Homo sapiens: one gene and its partners. The protein of the gene in region 4 interacts with the protein of the main gene of each other region in a pairwise test. Each region holds a gene or a part of one and is shown on either strand. Other genes may lie near its edges.

The links. Proteins that work in one complex are often made in the same cells at the same time.
Region 1: the proteins of PRPF18 (region 4) and ZRANB1 interact in binary tests that used the Homo sapiens proteins (3 or more experiments, as listed by UniProt).
Region 2: the proteins of PRPF18 (region 4) and PPIH interact in binary tests that used the Homo sapiens proteins (3 or more experiments, as listed by UniProt).
Region 3: the proteins of PRPF18 (region 4) and CCNC interact in binary tests that used the Homo sapiens proteins (3 or more experiments, as listed by UniProt).

Annotation. Positions count from the first base shown.
Region 1 is NC_000010.11:124,948,048-124,953,435, reverse strand, and holds part of ZRANB1 (ubiquitin thioesterase ZRANB1), read right to left. Parts: intron 1-5,388. UniProt on the Homo sapiens protein: Ubiquitin thioesterase, which specifically hydrolyzes 'Lys-29'-linked and 'Lys-33'-linked diubiquitin. Also cleaves 'Lys-63'-linked chains, but with 40-fold less efficiency compared to 'Lys-29'-linked ones.
Region 2 is NC_000001.11:42,664,348-42,669,735, forward strand, and holds part of PPIH (peptidyl-prolyl cis-trans isomerase H), read left to right. Parts: intron 1-515; coding exon 516-608; intron 609-1,632; coding exon 1,633-1,720; intron 1,721-2,199; coding exon 2,200-2,240; intron 2,241-3,003; coding exon 3,004-3,072; 3' UTR 3,073-3,093; intron 3,094-3,699; exon of another isoform or gene 3,700-3,804; intron 3,805-5,388. UniProt on the Homo sapiens protein: PPIase that catalyzes the cis-trans isomerization of proline imidic peptide bonds in oligopeptides and may therefore assist protein folding. Participates in pre-mRNA splicing.
Region 3 is NC_000006.12:99,550,348-99,555,735, forward strand, and holds part of CCNC (cyclin-C), read right to left. Parts: intron 3,455-5,388; exon of another isoform or gene 1,549-3,454; coding exon 1,493-1,548; exon of another isoform or gene 682-1,492; coding exon 646-681; exon of another isoform or gene 246-645; coding exon of another isoform or gene 222-245; exon of another isoform or gene 1-221. UniProt on the Homo sapiens protein: Component of the Mediator complex, a coactivator involved in regulated gene transcription of nearly all RNA polymerase II-dependent genes.
Region 4 is NC_000010.11:13,605,857-13,611,244, forward strand, and holds part of PRPF18 (pre-mRNA-splicing factor 18), read left to right. Parts: intron 1-4,182; coding exon 4,183-4,329; intron 4,330-5,388.

The DNA.
Region 1 (5,388 bases), about 110 Mb from region 4:
TCAAAAGCTCCAGTAATAACCCCCAAACATATCCAGCAGAAAGAAACCCGTTACCATTTGTGTCTTGGAAAGGACAGCTACTTCCCATACTAGTCAGTCCCTCTGTACCTCAACTTCTTTCATTATTAACAATGGCTCTGACCTCCTCTAGGAACTGGTGAAAATTAAGTAAAATTTTTCTGAAATTGTCAAATTAAGGTATTATTTGTTGGCTGGACACAGTGGCTCACGCCTGTAATCCCAGCACTTTGGGAGGCCAAGGCAGGAGGCAAGGTCAGGAATTTGAGACCAGCCTGGCCAATATGGTGAAACCCTGTCTCTACTTAAAAAAAAAAAAAAAAAAATTAGCCAGGCACAGTGGTGTGCACCTGTAATCCCAGCTACTTGGGAGGCTGAGGCAGGAGAATTACTTGAACCTGGGAGGCAGAGGTTGCAGTCAGCCGAGATCACGCCACTGCACTCCAGGCTGGGTGACAGAGCAAGACTCCATCTCAAAATAAAATTTAAAAAAATACTATTTGTTTAGGGCTGGGCGTGGTGGCTCACGCCTGTAATCCCAGCACTTTGGGAAGCCAAGGTGGACAGATCACCTGAGGTTAGGAGTTCGAGACTAGCCTGGCCAACATGGTGAAACCCGTCTCTACTAAAAATACAAAAATTAGCTGGGAATGTTGGCGGGCGCCTATAATTCCAGCTACTTGAGAGGTTGAGGCAGGAGAATCACTTGAACTCAGGAGGCAGAGGATGCAGTGAGCCAAGACCACGCCATTACACTCCAGCCTAGGCAACAAGAGCGAAAACTCCATCTCCAAAAAAAAAAAGATATTATTTGTTTTTAAAAAAGCTATTTGTATTAATTTCTTATTGCTGCTCAAACAATGATTACAACCTTAGTGACTTAAAACAACACAAACTTTCTGTCTTAGAATTCAGGAGGTCAGAAGTTCAGCAAGGCTCTCACTGAGCTAAAATCAAGGTGTTGGGAAGGCTGTGCTCCTTCATGAGGCTCTAGAAAAGCCTTGCCTTTTCTCCTAGAGGCTGCTGGCATTCCTTGCCTCAGGGCCCTGCAACTCTCTCAAGCCTCCGCTTCTCTTCTCATGGTCCCATCTATAATCTTCACTCTCCTGTCTCCCGCTGTGATTTACAAGGACGCTTGTGATTACACCACCCACCCAGATAACCCTGCCATTTAAGCAACCTTTAATCACTTCTGTAAAATCTCTTTTGCCACGTAAGGTGGCATACTCACAAATCCTGGGGACTGGGACGCACGCATGGGGAGGTGGGGTGTGGACATTATCTTGCCTGCCACTCTATTTATATTGGTCATGCAAATCACCCAAAAAGCCCAAAGAGGGGGTAGAGGGAGATGAACCTATAAGGAAGTCAATGGGCAAGTTAAAAATGTAAATTTGGACATTATAACTTATTTCATCAATACTGTTTTTATTTTTTTGTTTTTATTTATTTATTTATTTTGAGACAGAGTTTCACTTTGTTGCCCGGGCTGGAGTGCGGTGGCATGATCTCAGCTCACTGCAACCTCCGCCTCCCAGGTCCAAGAGATTCTTCTGCCTCAGCCTCCCAAGTAGCTGGGATTACAGATGCCCGCCACCACACCCAGCTAATTTTTGTATTTTCAGTAGAGACGAGGTTTCACCATGTTGGCCAGGCTGGTCTTGAACTCCTGACCTCAAGTGATCCGACCGCCCCGCTCTCCCAAAGTGCTGGGATTACAGGCATGAGCCACCGCGACCAGCAGATGGTGTGTTTTTAAAAACACCAAATGTTTTGTGCCTTCAGGTAAGTCATCAATAAAATATCCTTGTGAAAGAAATAATTTTTAAAGCTAAGGAGTAATGAACTAGAGAATAGAAGCCTCTTCTATTTTTTTCTTCACAATCGTTTGTATGCCCTGAGTTTTCTCTCAAGTTAAAAAGTCACCCCAAAGATGTCTTAAATGGGCAAAATCACCAGTGTCCAATGCAAGGATTTCCTTTTCCGTTTTGACATGGTAATTTTCTTGGTAATATAAATCACTTTAAAATCATTCCAGTTCAAAGGAATATAATCTCTCAAAAACTAAATGACTTTTCCTTCACAGAAGTTAATTTAATTTTGTTTGGATTATTGTACAACCTCCCTTTCATTACACCAGGCACATATTTCAACAGTAGAAACTTTTTTTAAAAAAATCATTATAGAAGATTACATTTTGCAACGGTTTTGTTTCTCCAGAGAAAAAAGTAATACTAATTTAATAATTTACTTGAGAAAAACCTCTGACAAATTGTAAATGTCCATCTATATACGTAATTCTTAATATCAATACCAAAACAAATTGAAAAGAATATTTTAAAATGTAATACGCCTACACTTTGCTATTTTTTTTTTTAAACAAGGTGTGTAAGTAAAACCAAATGGACAAATACCTTCTGACATATTTAATACCATGCAAGTTTTAAGACATGGTCTTGCTCTGTCACCCAGGCTGCAATGCAGTGACACAATCATGGCCCGCTGCAGCCTGGGCGCAAGTGTTCCTCCCATCCCAGCCTCCTGCATAGGTGGGGACCACATGGGAACACCACCATGTCCTGCTAATTTTTTTTATTTTTTATAGAGACGAGGTCTCGCCAAGTTGCCCAGGTTGGTTTTAGAGTCCTAGGCTGAAACGATCCTCCCCTCTTCTCAACCTCCCACAGTGCTGGGATTACAGGACTGAGCCACCATATCCAGACCCATCCAGAAACTGTGGAAATATTTAGATATTTCTAGAGTTACACTTGGCACTCTAGAGTGGACAGACACCATATGACACGTTATACGGATTTCTGGCAAGAGGCCCAAATACAATTAGAATCCAAATGGATTTGCCTCAAACATTGATTCTCAACACAATTAAGTTATGAGAAAAGGGAAAATAATAGATTAAATATAACAATATTTTTGCAGACAACTAATATAAGAAAACGTTACCAATACATGTTCTATGTTTTAAAAATCATGTAAGACCAGGCACAGTGGCTCACACCTGTAATCCCAGCACTTTGGGAGACCGAGGCGGGCGGGCTGCTTGAACCCAGGAGTTTGAGACCAGCCTGGGCAACAAGGGGAAACCTCATCTCTACAAAAAATGCAAAATTAGCCAGGCGTGGTGGTGCACGTCTGTAGTCCCATCTACCTGGGTGGCTGAGGTAGGAGAATTGCTTGAGCCCAGGAGGCAGAGATTGAAGTGAGCCAAGATCACACACCACTGCACTCTAGCCTGGGAGACAGTGAGACCACCTTGCCTCAAAAAAGTTAATTAGTTAATTAATTAAAAAATAAAACAATAAAAATCATCTAAGTCTTTACAGACATGTCAAAATTCTGAAAGTGGGACAAATTTTGCTCAGAAACCATCAGAATTATAATCCTCATGATGCCACTTCATCCTGCTACTTGATAAAGAAGAGATTCTGGTTCAGTCCGTAAGTCATTGATTTTCAACAGGGAACACCACTGCATGTGCACTTCACGTCACCCCAAAACTTCAGAGCACCGGGAGGCATTACTGATTCACATATTCCCTATAGTGAAAGCTGTTCATACCACTGCTATTGGGCAACTGAGTATTTCAGCATAAAAATTCCAGTTTCAGGCCAGGTGGTGGCTCACAACTGCAGTCCCAGTACTTGAGTCCAGGAGTCTGAAACCAGCCTGGGCAACACAGAGAGACCCCATCTCTACAAATCATTTTTAAAATTGGCGGGGCATGGTGGTATACACCTGTACGCCCAGCTACTAGGGAAGCTGAGGTGGGAGGACTGCTTAAGCCCAGGAGGTCAAGGCTGCAGTGAGCTGTGATCGCACCACTGCACTCCAGCATGGGCAACAGAGCAAGATCCTGTCTCAAAAAAAAAAAAAAAATGTGTGTGTGTGTGTGTGTGTGTGTGTATACGTGAATATATATACATATATGTGTGTGTAAACATATATATATACATATGTGTGTAAACATATATATATACATATATATGTGTATACATAGTTTCAATGTGAACTTGTTACTTAAGTTTGATTTTTTTCCCCCTATACCTTCAACAGCCCCAACCAAATCTCAGCTCCTAAACTTAAGAAAGATGCAGCTATTGTTTAGGAAGTAAGATAAACGCCAACTAGGAAGCAGCAGGTCCAATGACAACTGAATAAAATATTTCAAGTAAAAATCTCATTTGATAGTTATAGCAAACACATAGAATGATTTTTTTGAAAAAACAAATATTGCCATGAGTGAAAGTAGGGAGGTAGAGAAATTAAACATAAACCTGACTTTAGACTTTTCATGTCCATAGACTGCCTGGTGATAAACTGAAGCCTCTATACCCTTTCCTGTAAGACCCTTTCATACCCACTACTTACCTCAGTCTTCCTGACAACCAGTGAGAAGTAAAACTGGCTCTCCTGGGTTGAGCCCCAACTATTGAAAAACATAGAGAGCTAGGAAGCAGGCAAAGAATCTAGAAATTCATAGGAGGAGTAGGATAAAGGTTTGCCCAGACCCTAGTTCCCAAAAATATTCATTCGTTCATTGATATAAAAATACCTGAGTGCCTAGTATGTATGTAGCAGGCACTGTTGTACATACTAAGATACAGCTTTGAACAAAACATAAAATTACTGGCCCTCAGGAAGCTTAAATTCTAGAGTAGAGAGAGACAAATAATAAACAAGATGATGAAGCATATTAGAAGTGTTATGAAGAAAATTAATGCTGTGGGGAGGGATAATGGACAGGGATGAAATTTTAGATACGGCAGTCATGGAGGACCTCATTGAGAAGGCAATACATGAGAAAAGAAGCGAAGGTGGAGAGCAATCCAGGCAGAGCAAACAGCAAGTAAAAGGCTTGAGGCTTATTTATAGGAAAAAAAAAAAAGGTGGCAAGAGTGGCTGGAATGAAATGGAAAAGGTGGAAAACAGATTAGTTCAGAGATAAACTATATTTGGCCCTTGAACAACATGGAGATTAGGGGGACCAATCTCCCACACAGTAGAAAATCCATGTATAACTTTTAACTCCCCCCAAAATACTGATAGCCTACTGTTGACCGGAAGCCTTACTAATAGCATAAACAGTCGAACACATATTTGTATATGTATTATACACTGTATTCTTGTAATACATTAGAGAAAAGAAAATGTTATTAAGAAAATCATAAGGAAGAGAAAATACATTTACCAACTCATTAAGTCAAAGTGGCTCATCATAAAGGTCTTCATCATCATCATCTTCACCTTGAGTAGGCTGAGGAGGGGGAGGAGGAAGAAGAGGCATTATTCTTGCTGTCTCAGGGGTGGCAGAGCTGGTAGAAAACTCACGTATAAGTGGACGCGCACAGTTCA
Region 2 (5,388 bases), on a different chromosome or scaffold from region 4:
GAAGGAACTCTAGTTGGCCCAGAGTGAGTTAGGCATCCTTCCCTAGATCAATCAACTATGACCAGGAGGGTGGTATCATGTTGTACATACAGACTGCCAAGAGCTCACCCACCCTCTTAGATAGTTTAGGGGAATGGGGTGGTAGTCACTTAAGTGGGTACTTTTATGTGACTGAAGGCATGAGAGTCTTCAGGAATGGCAAGGATTGAGTATGTGATCACCTTGTTGCTGTTCCCTACTTTGTCTGCATCTTAATTGATCGTTCTAGAGGCCCAGCTGTGACCTCTTTTATCCAGTCTATAAAATGCTCCAGCCAGTCTTTGTGGGCTGTAGGTACCTTATATAAGGCTTGATCTGATTGCAGGGTGGGGTCAAATAGGTGCAGCTTCCAAGATGACCAACAAGAGTAAGAGTAGACTTTAAAGATGTCATGCTTTAGGTGCGACAGTGTTCTTCCTCCGGTTTCCAGGGACCCAACACTCCAAGTCACTAATACTTCCCTTCTCTCTGCTCAGGGAGATGGTACTGGAGTCGCCAGTATTTACCGGGGGCCATTTGCAGATGAAAATTTTAAACTTAGACACTCAGCTCCAGGCCTGCTTTCCATGGTAAGTGAGGTCCAATCAAGGTTTTGGGTTATAGCCAGCTGGTTCCTGGGCCCCTCTTGAGGCCCAGTGCTGTCTCTTGGGATGGAAGCAAATGCTTTCCTTCTCTTGCTTGGCCCAGGACTCACCTTTACCACCTCCTTTCTTAGTCTGGTTTGACTGAGAAAACCAGTAGGTATGCTGGCTCACGCCTGTAATCCCAGCACTTTGGGAGGCTGAGGCAGGTGGATAACCTGAGGTCAGCAGTTCGAGACCAGCCTGGCCAACATGGTGAAACCCCATCTCTACTAAAAATACAAAAAATTAGCCAGGTGTGGTGGTGGGTGCCTGTAATCCCATCTACTCGGGAGGCTGAGGCAGGAGAATCGCTTGAACCCAGGACGGGGAAGTTGCAGTGAGCTGAGATTGCCCCACTGCACTCCAGCCTGGGCAACAAGAGCGAAACTCCATCTTAAAACAAAGAAAAGAAAGAAAAGAAAACCAGTAGGTAAGGCCCACTAGCAGGCTAGCAGGCTGGGGAACTAAAATCTGAACCAGGATTTGTGTCTGGGCATTCAGCCCTACTGCTCAGAATGTAAACAGTTGTGCTTTCAAGACATATTCATAGCTGGGTGTGGTGGCTCACACCTGTAATCCCAGCACTTTGGGGAGGCCGAAGCAAGAGGATTGCTTGAGGTTGAGGTCAGGAGTTTGAACAATCTGGGCAACATAGTGAGACTTAGTCTCTACTTAAAAAAGAAAAAAAAAATTAGCCAGGTGTGGTGACACACACCTGTAGTCCCATCTACTAGGGAGGCTGAGGTGGGGAGGATTGCTTGAGCCCAGGAGTTTGAGGCTGCAGTGAGCCATATCCTGTTCATCTCTGTATCCTTGGATCCTAGCTTAGGCCCTGGCTCATAATAGGTGCTAAGTTAGATTTACTGAAAAAAACCATAGAGGAATCAGTGTTACAAGCTCTTTTGGAAATCTTGCCCTTCAGCTAACATGGCCGGGGAAACTTACTGCAGGTATATTTGGTTTCCATCAGGCGAACAGTGGTCCAAGTACAAATGGCTGTCAGTTCTTTATCACCTGCTCTAAGTGCGATTGGCTGGATGGGAAGCATGTGGTGTTTGGTAAGTCCTACTCCTGTCTCATGGTCCAGGCCCCATTCACCCTGGATGGAACCTCCAGAGGAGTTAGTTCTCAAACTCTTACCAAGAAAGCTCAACCTGTGTAACTGCTTAGGTGGTAATAGAGAAAACAGAAATGGTGGGGAGGTGGGGAACATGTGTGGCTAGAGAACTAGAGGGAAGGACAAAAGGACCATTTGATATAGTATGGAACCACTTAGGGAGAAAACCCAGTTGCTAGCACCAAAGAAATGCCATAGAGGCAGCATGATACGGTGAGACTTTGGAGTCACTCAGGTATAAGTTTGAGCCCTAACTCTACTTATTACCTATGACCTTGAGCAAGTCATTTCACCTCTACCGCATCTTAATTTCCTAAAGTTAGTATGAGGGTTTAATGAGAAAATAGCTAAGAATGGGCTTTGGAAGCTGGAAAATGCTATGTAAACAAGAATAAAGTCCAGCTCATGCTCTTCCTACAGGAAAAATCATCGATGGACTTCTAGTGATGAGAAAGATTGAGGTAAGTACTGCTTTGATTTTTCTGTTTCTCTGCCATTGTGGTCTGGTACTGTCTGACTAGCGTGCAGGAGCTAGAGAAGGGGGAATGAGCTCCAGTTTGTTAGGCTGTCTTCATTGCCCCAGGAAAAGGGAAGAGAACCACCTAAGTTAGCCTGTCTGGCCAACACTGAGGTTTGGCCTCTGATGATCCTGTTGCCTACTTGATAAAATTCTACTCCTCAGCATTGCGTTCAAGGTCCTTCATGATTAGTCCCTGTCTACCTCTCCATGGCCCCTTCTTCTGCCATTGCCTCTTCCATGTTCCAGTCACATCAGGCTACTAGCTCTTCTCTAAATCTGCCATGCATGTCCCTGCTGCTTGCTCTTTCCTGCCCCTGAGCCTTTGCTCACACAGTTTCCTCTAGCCGGAATGCTCTTCTTTCCTTCCCTCCTGATGGAATCCCATTCATCCTTCTAGGCACAGTTCAAATACCCCTCTTTTGTGAATCCTTCCCTGACCTCTTTAAGCCCCAATTTAGTTGCCTATCTAACCCTTATCCAATTCTCTCTTATAACTTTTTCTTATATAATCATAAGTTTGATATTTTCTAAGTGTTTTGCATTTTCTCTTTGATAGGTATTATATGCTTTACCTGTCTGCCAGGACATGGACTGTTTCTGAGTGCTGAGTCCTTAGCACAGGGCTGGCAGGCATCAGTAAAAGTTTGATAAGGGAACGAGGAAGTGCCTGAGTGGATGAATCTCCATTGTGCTTTTTTTCCTAGAATGTTCCCACAGGCCCCAACAATAAGCCCAAGCTACCTGTGGTGATCTCGCAGTGTGGGGAGATGTAGTCCAGACAAAGACTGAATCAGGTAAGTGTGTCTTTCTCCTATTAGGTTAGGAATCAGACCTCAGAGAAGGCAGCATGGTCTAGTGGAAAGAACTTTAGTCTTGAAGACATGAGATTGAGCCCAGTTCCTCCGTGTATGGCCTTGGAGTAGTCACTTTCCTTCTCTGAGCACATTTCCTCATCTGTCAAATGGAAATACTGTAATACCTATCTCTCAGAGTCACTGTAAAAATAAAAAGAGAAAGGGTTGTAGGAGCACTTTACTTTTCTATCACTTTGTAATGTACAAAGTATCAATGTGAAAACTACTCAGGCAGTTTGTAACAGCACTCTCAGACTACAGTTCCATTCAGTAGTCCCCCTAGAAAGACCTGGCTCCAGGCCTGAGTAACTCTCTGCTGGGACCAGGCCAGGCAGCCAGGAGACACACCTGTCATGCCTCTCATCAGAACTGATACTGCAATTCCAGGCCTCGACTTCATATTCGCTGGCCTCATAGGTGAATGCCTTGCATCTTCCAGCCTACATGGACTCATTTCTTACCCGTAATTACCACTGCCTGCTCTGCGCTGGGCAGCATGCTAGCTGCAGAGAGGGGGACAAAGAATTGAAAGATGTCTCCTTTCAGGAGCTCATGGAAAGTAAGACATTCCCAGAGGTGATCACTAGTAATATGAGTGACATTGCCAAGTATGAGAAGAGTACAAGGGAGAAATCCATCACTTCCAGCCAGGTGAGGGGTAGTGATGTTTTGTTTTTCTTTTTTTTTTATTTTCAAACCTGCAAAAAAGTTAGAAGATAATACCTTGAACACCAATATATCTTCACTTAGATTCACCAATGATTAACATTCTTGTTTTATTGCTTTGCCTTGACATTTGTTTTTTTCTTTCCCTTCTTGCCTCCTCACCCATTTCCATTGCCTCTCCTCCTCCCTCCTGCTCCTCTTCCCTCCCTCCATCCTTTCCTTCCTTTCTTCCCATCTTCCTTCCTTTACCCTTTCTTCTTCTCTTTCCCATTTGAAAGTTGCAGACTTCTTGACACTTTACCCCTAAGTATTTCAGCAAGGAACTCCTAAAAATAAGAACATCCTACGTAACCACAATATTATCTAATATATAGTACATTTTCAAACCTCCCCAATTGTCCCAAAAGTAACTTTTGTAGCTTAAAAAAAGGTGATCCAATCAAGGTTCCCATATTTCATTTCATTTGGTTTACACAAGTAACATAATACACTCTCATTGTGAAAACTTTCACACCAAACAGATAAAGTGAAAGCCCCTCTTGACAATACCCACCTGCAATTCCACTCCCCTTTCCAAAGGTCACTTCCTTATTAGTTTGATGTATGTCCATCAGGGCCTTTGCCTTGCCCATCTAATTTTGGGAGGTTTTCTTTTTCCCAAATGAAATCATACTATATTTTTCATGTTCTAAAAAATATGTCTTGAAAACTTTTCCTTCTTAGTTCATGTAAAACCACCTTGTATTAAAAAATGAAAACAGCCCGGCAGGAGGTGGCTCACTCCTGTAATCCCAGCACTTTGGGAGGCCAAGGAGGGCAGATAGCTTGAGCTCAGGAGTTCGAGACCAGCCTGGGCAACCTGGTGAGATCCCGTCTTTCCAAAAAAAAAAAAAATTAGCCAGGTGTGGTGGTGCATGCCTGTAGTCCCAGCTACTCAGGAGGCTGAGGTGGGAGGATTACTTGAGCCCAGGAGTTTGAGGCTGCAGTGAGCTATAATCACACCACTGTACTCCAGCCTGGATGACATCAAAAAAAAAAAAAAAAGGAAAAGAAAAACCGAAACTGCAGTGCAGGCTGAGCATCCCTAATCCGAAATCCCAAATGCTCCAAAATATGAAGCTTTTTGAGCACTAACATGACATTAGAAGTGGAAAATTCCACACCTGACTTCATGTGATGGATCATAGTCAAAAATCTGTTTCATGCACAAACGTATTAAAAATATTGTATAAGATTACCTTATACAATAGCTATAAGTAGCTAGGACTACAGGTGCATGCCACCACGCCCAGCTAATTTTTATATTTCTTGGTAGAGATGGGGTTTCATCATGTTGGCCAGGCTGGTCCCCACCTCAAGTGGTCTGCCCACCTTGGCCTCCTAAAGTGCTAGGATTACAGGCGTGAGCCACTGCCCCCAACTGAGCATTAGTTCTTAATTTTATATGTTGTAATTGTTTTCTTCAGAATATATTTTAAGAAAAAAATTAGTATTGTGTTGCTTAAGTTTGGTGATATTCTTTGTTAAAGAGAAGTTCTAAATTTTGATGAAGTCCAAATTATCAGTCTT
Region 3 (5,388 bases), on a different chromosome or scaffold from region 4:
GATTTATTACAACACAAAAATGTTATCATTACCCAACTGATTTGTAATTGTGTATTTCAAAGTGAATTTCACTAACTCATGCTTGCTTCCCTTTTATTCTCTTAAGCTAGCAGTATGACAGCCCTAAACTCTACCGTAATAGTGAAGGCAGTGCTCTCTCTGGAATATACCTTGATAAATCGGTTGGCAGTCAGTCAGCATCCATTCATTCCCTTAGAGACTCAAAGTGTCACATCTGCAACACACTGAAACCTCTTATTAGCCTATAAATTCATAATTCCCAACTGGAGGAGCAGAATTCTGCCAAAGACATAATCTATCTTTAAATAACACTGCACGCACACACAAATTGTGCACATAATTTATGGTGGTTTAATGTCCTGACTTGTCTGTTTGTAATCCTTTCATTATAGTTACTTACTATAGAACAGAAAAATTTTCCCATCCTAAGTAGGATATACAAATTATTTTACAGGCTTCAGAGAGACTCTAGGTGCTAATATAAATAGGCTACCATGATTTCACCATCACATATTAGGTGGATGGTTTTAAAATGTACCTCTCTAAAATCATTTCTTTAAATAATTTCCAACTTCATTTAATTTAAAAATGTTTTAATCTATTAATCACAGAAGATTTACTTACCATTAGTTCTAACAGATAGAATTCACATTCTAATATCTGTTTAAAACAAAGATTATCAATGAAATGTCAATATGAAACCAAATTAGATAAGTCCACTTAATCTAACATAAATTACAGACATTATAGTAATTTATCAAAAATTTTTACTAAAAAGTTTTAAAAATCCAGACAATAAACATAGTTTATATTAAAATAAATATCTGCAATAAAAAATTACTATTAGAAATGCAATTATGATTATAAGGATTTTAATCCTTGTAAGGAAAAGCCAGCTTCTCACAATCATTCTTATTACTCACTTTTATTTAAAATATCCTGTAAAACCATCAGATTTTCCAGTATACTTTCTACTCAGCAAATGCAAAAATACAATTATTTCTACTTAATTTAAAAAATGTAACTTAAAGAGAATAAACAAATCCCTTGCAAGGTGGAAAAAGGACATACCTATTAAAATGTCAATAGAAATTCACCTTATATTTCATATTGTTCCATTAGTTTTTAATCCCAGCTAAATAGTAGTATCACCTGGGACCTTTTACACAGTACCAATGTTGGGAGCCCCAAGGCTGAAAATTCTGATTTTGTTGTTCTGGAAAGGATCCAACATCAGTATTATTTACAAGTTCCCAAGGTGATTTAATGAGCAGCCAGGGTTGATAATCGCCACTATGAAGTATTTTTTTTAAATGGTAAAAGCTATTTAGCTTTAATTTAGAATAATGTCTGTATTTATGTAATATTTGAAACTGCCATTTCTAGGAAACTATTAAATTTAGTCTAATATAAAATAGAGCTAGTTTATATATAGCTTTGATAATTGTTCCATTTTATATCATATACTTACATGATTCATCCTATAAGGAAATTCCTTTGGAAAGGCATATGAAAATCTAGTTTTTACTGCAGAAAATAAAAAAAAAATTTAAACTGAGAAAATGGGAAATAAATTAACTCAAAATTCCTTTAACAGAGCAGAATATTAGAGGGTAGAGCAAAATTATTTTCAGTAGGAATTCTTGGCAACACTTACGGACGCAGATTTTTATTTACTTTCAGGGAAGGGGAAAGACTGGGGGGCAGGACACTCTACACAGCTTCAATTTTATATTTACTACCTTAAGAAAGGATTCTGATGTTTAAAAAAGAAAAAGATCAGGAAAAAAAAATCACTGGCTTTTATCATTTCTAAAATCTTTTCAGCTACAGAATGGTATTCTTCTGTTTTCCAGTGACTGAGCTTAGAAGGAACACAGGGGTTACATATGTGTTTACAATATATACAATTGGTAAAAAATATACATATAAAATATTGGGAGGATAGTACACCAAAAAAATGTTAACAGTGGTTATTTGTGAGATTTAAGAACTTTTTACTAATCTGCACTTTCTAAACTTTTTACAATGACCAGGTATTTATCAAAATATATATTTTAATAAAAGCATTAATATATATGCAAAGGTCTCGAGTTACTCATAAAGTAGTAGTAGTAACACATAAAGTTAGTACTCTATTATCTATTACTTTATTGGTTAGTCACTAAATAAAGTACAAATGAAAAAAAAATGTTAACCATCAATCCCCCATCTCCTTAAAATGGTGTGAGCATATACACATAAGTACTATTTGAGAAACTGTATTCAAGCCATTATGACACATTTAATTCAACCAAGTAACTACTGACAGGTCCTAAAAAATGTTTAGTGTCAGCTTCCATTTGTACAAAGCCCAAGTGATTTCACTGAAATTAAAAGAAATTCCATTTCTGGCCAGGCACAGTGGCTCATGCCTGTAATCCCAGCACTTTGGGAGGCCAAGGTGGGTGGATCACCTGAGGTCAGGAGTTCGAGACCTCCTGGACAACATGGTGAAACCCCATCTCTACTAAAAATACAAAAATTAGGCGAGTGTAGTGGCATGCACCTGTAGTCCCGGCTACTCGGGAGGCCGAGGCAGGAGAATCCCTTGAACCCGGGAGGCAGAGGGTGCAGTGAGCTGAGAACACACCACTGCACTCCAGTCTGGGTGACAGTGAGACTCCATCTCAAAAAAAAAAAAAGAAAGAAATTCCATTTCTTCTATGCACTATGTTTTCAAAAAGATTTGTTTTGCAAATTCAGTGCCCTACAGCTAATTTAGATGTGTAATATCTGCCAGGATTTGAAACCTAGAATAATTTAAACTTGACATTAGTAAATTTATAATCTTTCCTTTCTTCTCTCCTTTATTTAAATTTAAGACGTACCTATTAAGGTTTCTGAGTTTTACAAATCCTTGTGATGTAAAGTATACCAGCACAACAGGTTCTTATATAATGGTAGACAATCAACAAAGTAAAATTATCTCTGTATATAAAACAAATCTACATCCCCATCCCCTGGACCTTGACACCTAACACCTCTATTGAGAATATATTTACCTGATACTGTCACATGTCTGTTACTCCATGCTAAAACTGCTCTGCATTTTTTTCTGTCTTTTAATCCTTTTCCTCCAACTTGGAGAAAAATACATCCCTCCTCTCTATTGTTTGTCTTACCACTTATACACTTATTATCATCTATTCAATTGATAACTCCTGCTATTTTTTTCATCTTTAACCTTCCTCCTTCAGTAAATCTTCCATCACATACTAATATGCTCAAATTTCCCTTGAAAAAAGCAAAACAAACTCTACCTAATTATATTCCTCTGCCTTTTATTTTTGTAGACTCAAACACTGAGATCATGCACAGTTCTCTTATACCCACCGTTATTGACTTCCCAGCCTCCAGAACTGTGAGAAATAAATGTCTGTTGTGAAAGCCACCCAGTCTATGGTACTTTCTTATATTAGCCCAAGTGGACTAAGACATGCCTTCACCCAGCTTCCCCTACTATTAACATCTTACATTAGTATGGCGCATTTGTTACAATTACTGACCCAATATTGAAATGTTATTATTAACTAAACTGTACTTTTTTCAGATCTCCTTAGTTTGTACCAATGTCCTTTTTCTATCCTAGGGTCTTATCTAGGATACCACATTATATTTATTTGTCATGTTTCCTTAGACTGTTTGGCTGTGACAGTTTTCTAGCCTTTCCTTGTTTTTGATGACTTTGACAGTTTTTAGGAGTACCAGTCAAGTATTTTGTCAAATGCCCCTCTACTGGAATTTGTCTGATGTTTTTCTCATTAGACTAGAGAAAATGGGTTTTTGACAGGAAGACCACCGAGATAAAGTACCATCTTCATCATATCACATCAATGATACATGATATTAATGTGATTTATCACTGTTGCTACTGACCTTGATCGCCTGGCTAAGGCAGTATTTCTCAGGTTTCCCCACTGTAAAGTTACCTTTTTCCTCCCTTTCCATATGTACACACTAGCAGGAAGTTAACATGTATAGCCAGCACCTTAGGAGTGGGGAGTTATGCTCCCTCTACTTGAGGGCAGAATAGTTACATATATTATTTGGAATTCTTCAGCATGGAAGACATGTCTCTTCTCCCTCATTTATTTATATCAGTATGGACTCATGGATATTTAGTTTATACTTTGAGTTATTATCCAATGCTATTTTTAAAATTTTGATGCTCAAATTCTTTCAGCTTTGGTCAGTGGGAGCTCTCTTAGTTAGCTCCTATATCCTTTTGACATATCCTCATCAATAGACGTTTTTGTTTTTCTTGTTTGTTTTGAATACTTCTTTATTACTGGCATTAAGAGATGGTCCAGGTCCATCTTGTGTATTTCTTGCCCCAGTCCTAGAATCAACCATTTCTCCAAGGAGCCCTGGTACCTTTTATTGGAGAATGATATTAGAAACCAAGATATGGGTACTAGGTGAGCTCATTGCTACTGGGATGTCATTGCTTATAGACCCTTTCAGCTGAGAAAGCCAAGAAATACACACACTAACCCATGTATATACACTTATCTATAAATATTTCTATATGTAACTAACCATCTATATTGTATTAAGGTACACGAGTTCATGCTGTTTCCAGCCCTTTGCTTATCTGTAAATTCCCGCTCCAACAATGAGAAACCCGGCTCTCAAACATTTGCTATTGATTTACGTAATTGTTTAATTCCCATATACATGTATAGCATTATCAGAATTGTTAACTTGTACACCCATGGGTAATAACTTTATCAACTAGAGTACAGTGCTTATGTGTAGTTCCTTTTGCCTTTACTCTTACACTCTTAATCATTTCCAAAGCTACTTATGTCAACACCTTTCCCCCAATTCCCTTCACTGAAGTTGTTTCATATATTTTTAATATAGTTAGACTATTCCTTTCTCAGCACCTACTTGCTTCTTAATTCCTTGCAATCTGGCTTCTACCTCCACCCCCACATTGTTAATGACACTATGTTCTCTCTCAAAGATGTTTTTTTCTTTGGTTCACATCTTTTTCTATGCAGCATAAGACATTGTGGAACTCTTTTTTTTTTTAATTTTTAGGGACAGAGTCTTACTCCATTGCCCAGGCTGGAGTGCAGTGGCATAATCACAGTTTACTGCAGCCTTGAACTCCTGGGCTTAGGCAACCCTCCCACTTCAGCCTAGTTGAGTAGCTAGGACTACAGGTGTGTGCCACCATGCCCAGTTAGTTTTTCTTTAATTTTTTGCAGAGCTGGAATCTTGCTATGTTGTCCAGGCTGGTCTTGAACTCCTGTTCTAAAGCAATCCTCCTGCTCCAGCCTCCCAAAGTGTTCGGATTATAAGCAGGAACCACCATAC
Region 4 (5,388 bases):
TTGCTGCTGAATGGAAGTTTTCATTAATTTTTTGAAAAGCTCATATCTTAAGTATAACATTTAATGCATTTTGACAAATACATACAAGCATATAACCATTGCCCTTATAAAGAAATAGAACATTTTCGTCACCAAAGAAATTTCCCTGAGAGCATCAGGAAGAATAGCGAATGGATGCTGGGCTCAATAGCTGGGTGATGGGATGATCTGTGAAGTAAACCACCACGACACACGTTTCCCTATGTAACAAACCTGTCATCCTGCAGCTGTATCCCTGAACTTAAAAGTTGAAAAAAAAGAGAAAAAGGAAATTTCCCCAGTACCCCTTCTCAGCCTATCCTCATATTTCTCCTCATCCCTTCCTGGGCAGCCACCATTTGAATTTTGTCATCATGGATTAATTTTGCTTGTTCTTGTATTTCATACAGATGGACTCATAGATTGTGTGTCTGGCTTCTTTCGCTCAGCATATCAGTTTTTAGGTTCATCCATGTTATTGCAGATACCACTGGTTTCCTTTTCATTTTCCAGTGATACTCAGTTGTATGAATATATCAAAATTTGTTTCCAGCTTTGGGCTATTAGGAATAAAACTGCTGGCTGGGCGTGGTGGCACAAGCCTGTAATCCCAGCACTTTGGGAGGCTGAGGCAGGTGGATCACAAGGTGAAGAGATCGAGACCATCCTGGCCAACATGGTGAAACCCCGTCTCTACTAAAAATACAAAAATTAGCTGGGCGTAGTGGCGTGTGCCTGTATTCCCAGCTACTTGGGAGGCTGAGGCAAGAGAATCACTTGAATCCGGGAGGTGGAGGTTGCAGTGAGCTGAGATTGTGCCACTGCACTCCAGCCTGGCGACAGAGTGAGACTCCTTCTCAAAAAAAAAAAAAAAAAAAAAAAAACAGGGATAAAACTGCTATGACCATTCTTATGCAGATCTTTTTTTGGAACTATGTTATTTTTCTTGGGTAAATAAATAGGTCTCTTGGGGAGATACCTAGAAGTAGAATTGCTGGATAATAAGAGTAGATGTATGCTTAACTTCATAAGAAATGCCAGTCATTTCCAAACCCCAGCATGTGGTATTGTTAGTCTTTTTAATTTTAACCATTCTCTTTTGTGTCTGGTAGTAGCTCTTTGCGGCTTTAATCACATTACCTGATGACTAAAGATGAGGAGCATCTTTTCATAAAGTTGTGTTCATTTGTGTAGTGTCTGTTAAAGTCTTTCTTTCCTTATTTATTTATTTTTTTGACACAGAGTCTCACTCCGTCACCTACGCTGGAATGCGGTGGCATAATCATGGCTCATGGCAGCTGCAACCTCCTGGGCTTAAGCAGTCCTCCCACCTCAGCCTCTCAAGTAGCTGGGATTACAGGCGCTTTTTGTTCATTTTAAAAATAAACTTGTCTTTTTGTAAATGGATTATAGGAATTCTTTGTATATTCTGGATAGAAGTTCTTTGTCAGATATACGAATATTTTTTGTGACTATTTTCTTGTAGTTTAGGGCTTACCTGTTCTCTTAATTGAATCTTTTGCTGAACAGAAGTTTGTGTGTGTGTACACACACGCTTTTTGAGACAGGGTCTCACTCTCACCCAGGCTGGAGTTCAGCATGATCATGGCTAACTGCAACCTCTAGCTCCTGGGCTTAAGCGATCTCCCACCTCAGCCTTCCAAGTAGCTGAGACCACAGGTGTGTGCCACCATGCCTGGCTGATTTTTTAATTTTTGTAGAGATGAGGCCTCCTCATGTTGCCCAGGCTGATCTTGAACTCCTCTACTCAAGGGATCCTCCCGCCTTGGCCTCCCGAAGTGCCCGGGCCAGAAGTTTTATATTTTAATGAAGTCCAATTTATTGTTTTTTCCTTTTATGGTCATTGCTTTTTGTGTCCTGCTTAAGAAATCTTTGCCTATCCCAAGATTTCAAATATATATTCTTAATTTTCTTCTAGAAGCTTAATATTATAGTTTTTGCTTTACATTTAAGGCTCTGATCTTGTTTTATGGCTTAGCATATGGTTTATTCCATGGGCTCTTGAAAAGAGTATTGTTTTGCTTTCATGGTACAGTTCTACAAATGTCAGTGATGATAGTGTTGTTCAGATCTTCTTTGGCCTTGCTAACTTTTTATCTACTTGCTTTCTCAATTATTGAGAGACAGGTGTGGTTACCTATGACTATGTAACAGACTACTCCAAAACTTACTAGTGTTTGTTTATTTATTATAAAGGATTTATCATTACCAAATCTGTTTTTGGTGATTAACAAGCCACCCTGAAACTTGATAGCTTAAGATAATTTGTTATTGTCTTAATAATTACCAGTTCTGTGGTTTTATTGGGCTGGATTGAGCAGTATCTTGCTTGGGGTCTTTATTGTGATTGCAGTCAGATGAAGGCTGCGGCCGAAATCATGTGAGGCTGCCTCTGGACTGGTCTTCTAAGCTGATATCTTGCCCCTTTCCTGGCGTCTCAGTTGGAATGGCAGGAACAGCTGGGGCTGGCCAGGCCCGCTCCCCGACCTGCTCTGTCTGCTAGCCTGGGCTGTCTGACTGCTTTCTTTGTTGCCAAACCACTTTCCTGCTTTACTTCCCAGCATTGTCATTCCAGCCCCACAACACTAGCAGTTGCTTTCAGTCCTCTGTGTCTGTAATGATCATTTTTCCTTTGCTTGCTGTGTTTCTGCCTTGTATGCTCTGGTTGAAATCTTGTTTTTATACTTTCACATGCAATTCAGTGACCACATCTTCTCTCGGAATCTATTTTTGGTCCCAGTCAGAATTAATTGCTTCCTTCTCCATGTGCCTATGAGTAAACCTTTGTTAGTGTACTTACTGTTTTTCGCTATTATTAGAGTTATGTGCATATTTATCTCTTCCTGGTGGGCAAAGGCTGTTTTACCTTTGTATGCCAAGTCCTGTGCCGTGCATCTAGAGGTTTTGAGGACAAAGCACAGGAGCACAAGGTCTGGATTCCATTCCTGGATTATAGTAATCAATTATTTGGCCGTTGGCAAGTCTTTTACTCTATTTGAACCTTAGAATCTTCATTGGTAAAACAGAGGCAGTGATATTTGGCTCACTGGGATGCACTGAGAATTCGATGAGGTGACCTCTGGGAATGCCTGGCGTCATACTTTTTACACAGCAGGTGATCAGTCAGTGTTTGAGAAATTATAAGTGTTTTGAGTTGAATGTTTCTCTTCTGTGTTTATGAAGGGACAGGAGACAATGATCAGATGCTTTTTGTGTGAGAACGTTAGGAGTTAACATTGGTTGAATGTGCACCGTGCTCCAGTAACTGTTCAAAGCTCATCGTCCATTTCTTAGCTTACTTGCGTGACTTGATGTTTGCGAGGTTCTGGAACAGCTGCATCACATAGTAACTGTTCACTGAAATAAAAAATAGCATCCTTATTACAGCCCTACGTAGTAGATGGTGCCATTACTCCTATTCTGTAGGTGAGTCTACTGAGGCACACAGGGGTTAAGCAAGCTTTCAAAGAGCTATTTAATAGTATGTGGCAAGGATTTGAACCCAGATAGCTTTTACTCTCAACCATTACCCTATAGCCGCCTCACAGCCATGTTTCCTTGGCTCTTAAACCTTGCAGCTGATTCTCATTCATTTTTAGGAAGATGAGGCTTCCATTTTCATTAAAGGGTCATGAACCATATGTGCATAAAATGCGAATTTGCTGGTTTGCTAGAAACATAGTTGAGAACCTGGGATATAGATGAGGCACCAATTTTATTACACTGATGTTTCTGAATGTTTTGGGAGTTCACAGTAGTTGAGGTTAGACATTGTAAATGAGCTGGGCAAACGGGTTGGGGACTCTAATGGAGACCTGCCACTGTCACTAAGCCTCATTAGAAAATTACAGCATTGATGAAGATTCTTACTTGGATTTGTCACTCACGTGTATTTTATTTTTCTGACCAGCAGACTGGCCATTGTTTGTGCATTGTTTTAATTTAAATAGGTCCGTAAGAATTAACTTTAAATGGACAGTAGTGATAGTTGTGTGATAAATTGATGTGATTTGAGTCCCTACTTTTGCTGAACTCTTCTTGTGGGGGAAAAAATATTTGCAGTTATTAATGAAAAATCAAAGGTGAAAAAACAGGTGTTCTTCCTTTCATAACAGGTGTTCTTCCTTTTTTTGCTTTTCTTAGGGATTGAGGAATGATTTGAAAGCAGCCTTGGATAAGATTGATCAGCAGTACCTCAATGAAATCGTCGGCGGTCAGGAGCCTGGAGAGGAAGACACACAGAATGATCTGAAAGTTCATGAGGAAAACACCACAATTGAAGAGTTAGAGGTAATCTCTACACCAAGCCCAGCACATCCCTGGCACCCTTCTTTTTCCTCTGGAGCAGATGACTGAGTCGGGCAGATTGTTGAGGGCAGAGCACACTGTTGTCCTTGGTCTTTTGTTTATTTACTCCTCGCTTTTATTTATTTACTCCCCTTTTTCTCATCCTCCACTCACATTCCCCTACTTCCTGCCTTCAAAAGGAACCCATTCTAATATGTTGGATATGCATCTTTCTGTTTGTTGGTGCTCTTGTGACCTGCAGTGTTTTGTGAGCATGTATTTTTGATTTACATAAATGATGTTATGCTGTGAAATTCTTTATTCCGTGTTTTACTTTTCTTTTTTTCAGTTAGCACTATGTTTTTAAGAGCTATCCTTGATGCTCTGTGTACACTGAATCCTTTGCTTTTAATTGCTACATAGGATTCCATGTGTTACGCCATTCACTGCATTTGACTTTTTGTTCTCCGGTAATGATGGACAGCTAGATTGTTCCCAGCTCTCTCCTACCACAAACAGCTTCCTGATGAACAGTCTTGTGCATAACCACGATGGCCTAGCAAAGTGGGATTGTGGGATTTATATATGTATATTTAACTTGTCTAAGTACTGCCAAGTTACTCTCTGGAATGGCTGTCCTAGTCTACACCCAGCAGTGTGAGGGTCCCCTGTCTTTCCAGCCCTGCCAACGCTTGGCAATATCTTGCTGTCTGATTTTTGCTATAGTGCTGCTTTTGGAGTGTTAGTGTATAATCTTAATTAAAAAGCAATTTTGTATCATGTAAGTAGCATGTAAAATAAATATGGCTTAAAGTTCTTAATGCTTAAGGAAACATAAACTTATTTTTCTGTTTCCTTTAATTCCTGGCTCTTGTATGTGTAGCTGTCCCTCTGAATAAGATCATAGTTGAGGAAGACGTCATTTTAATCCCCTGCCTCCTCCAATACCTGTCTATGGTCCCTAAATTTTACTAAAATAATTGGTATGGGCAACCAGTTGTGGGCTTTTTTTTTTTTTTTTTTCCTATTGGTGTATTTATTTGTTTATTTTTAAAAAACAGC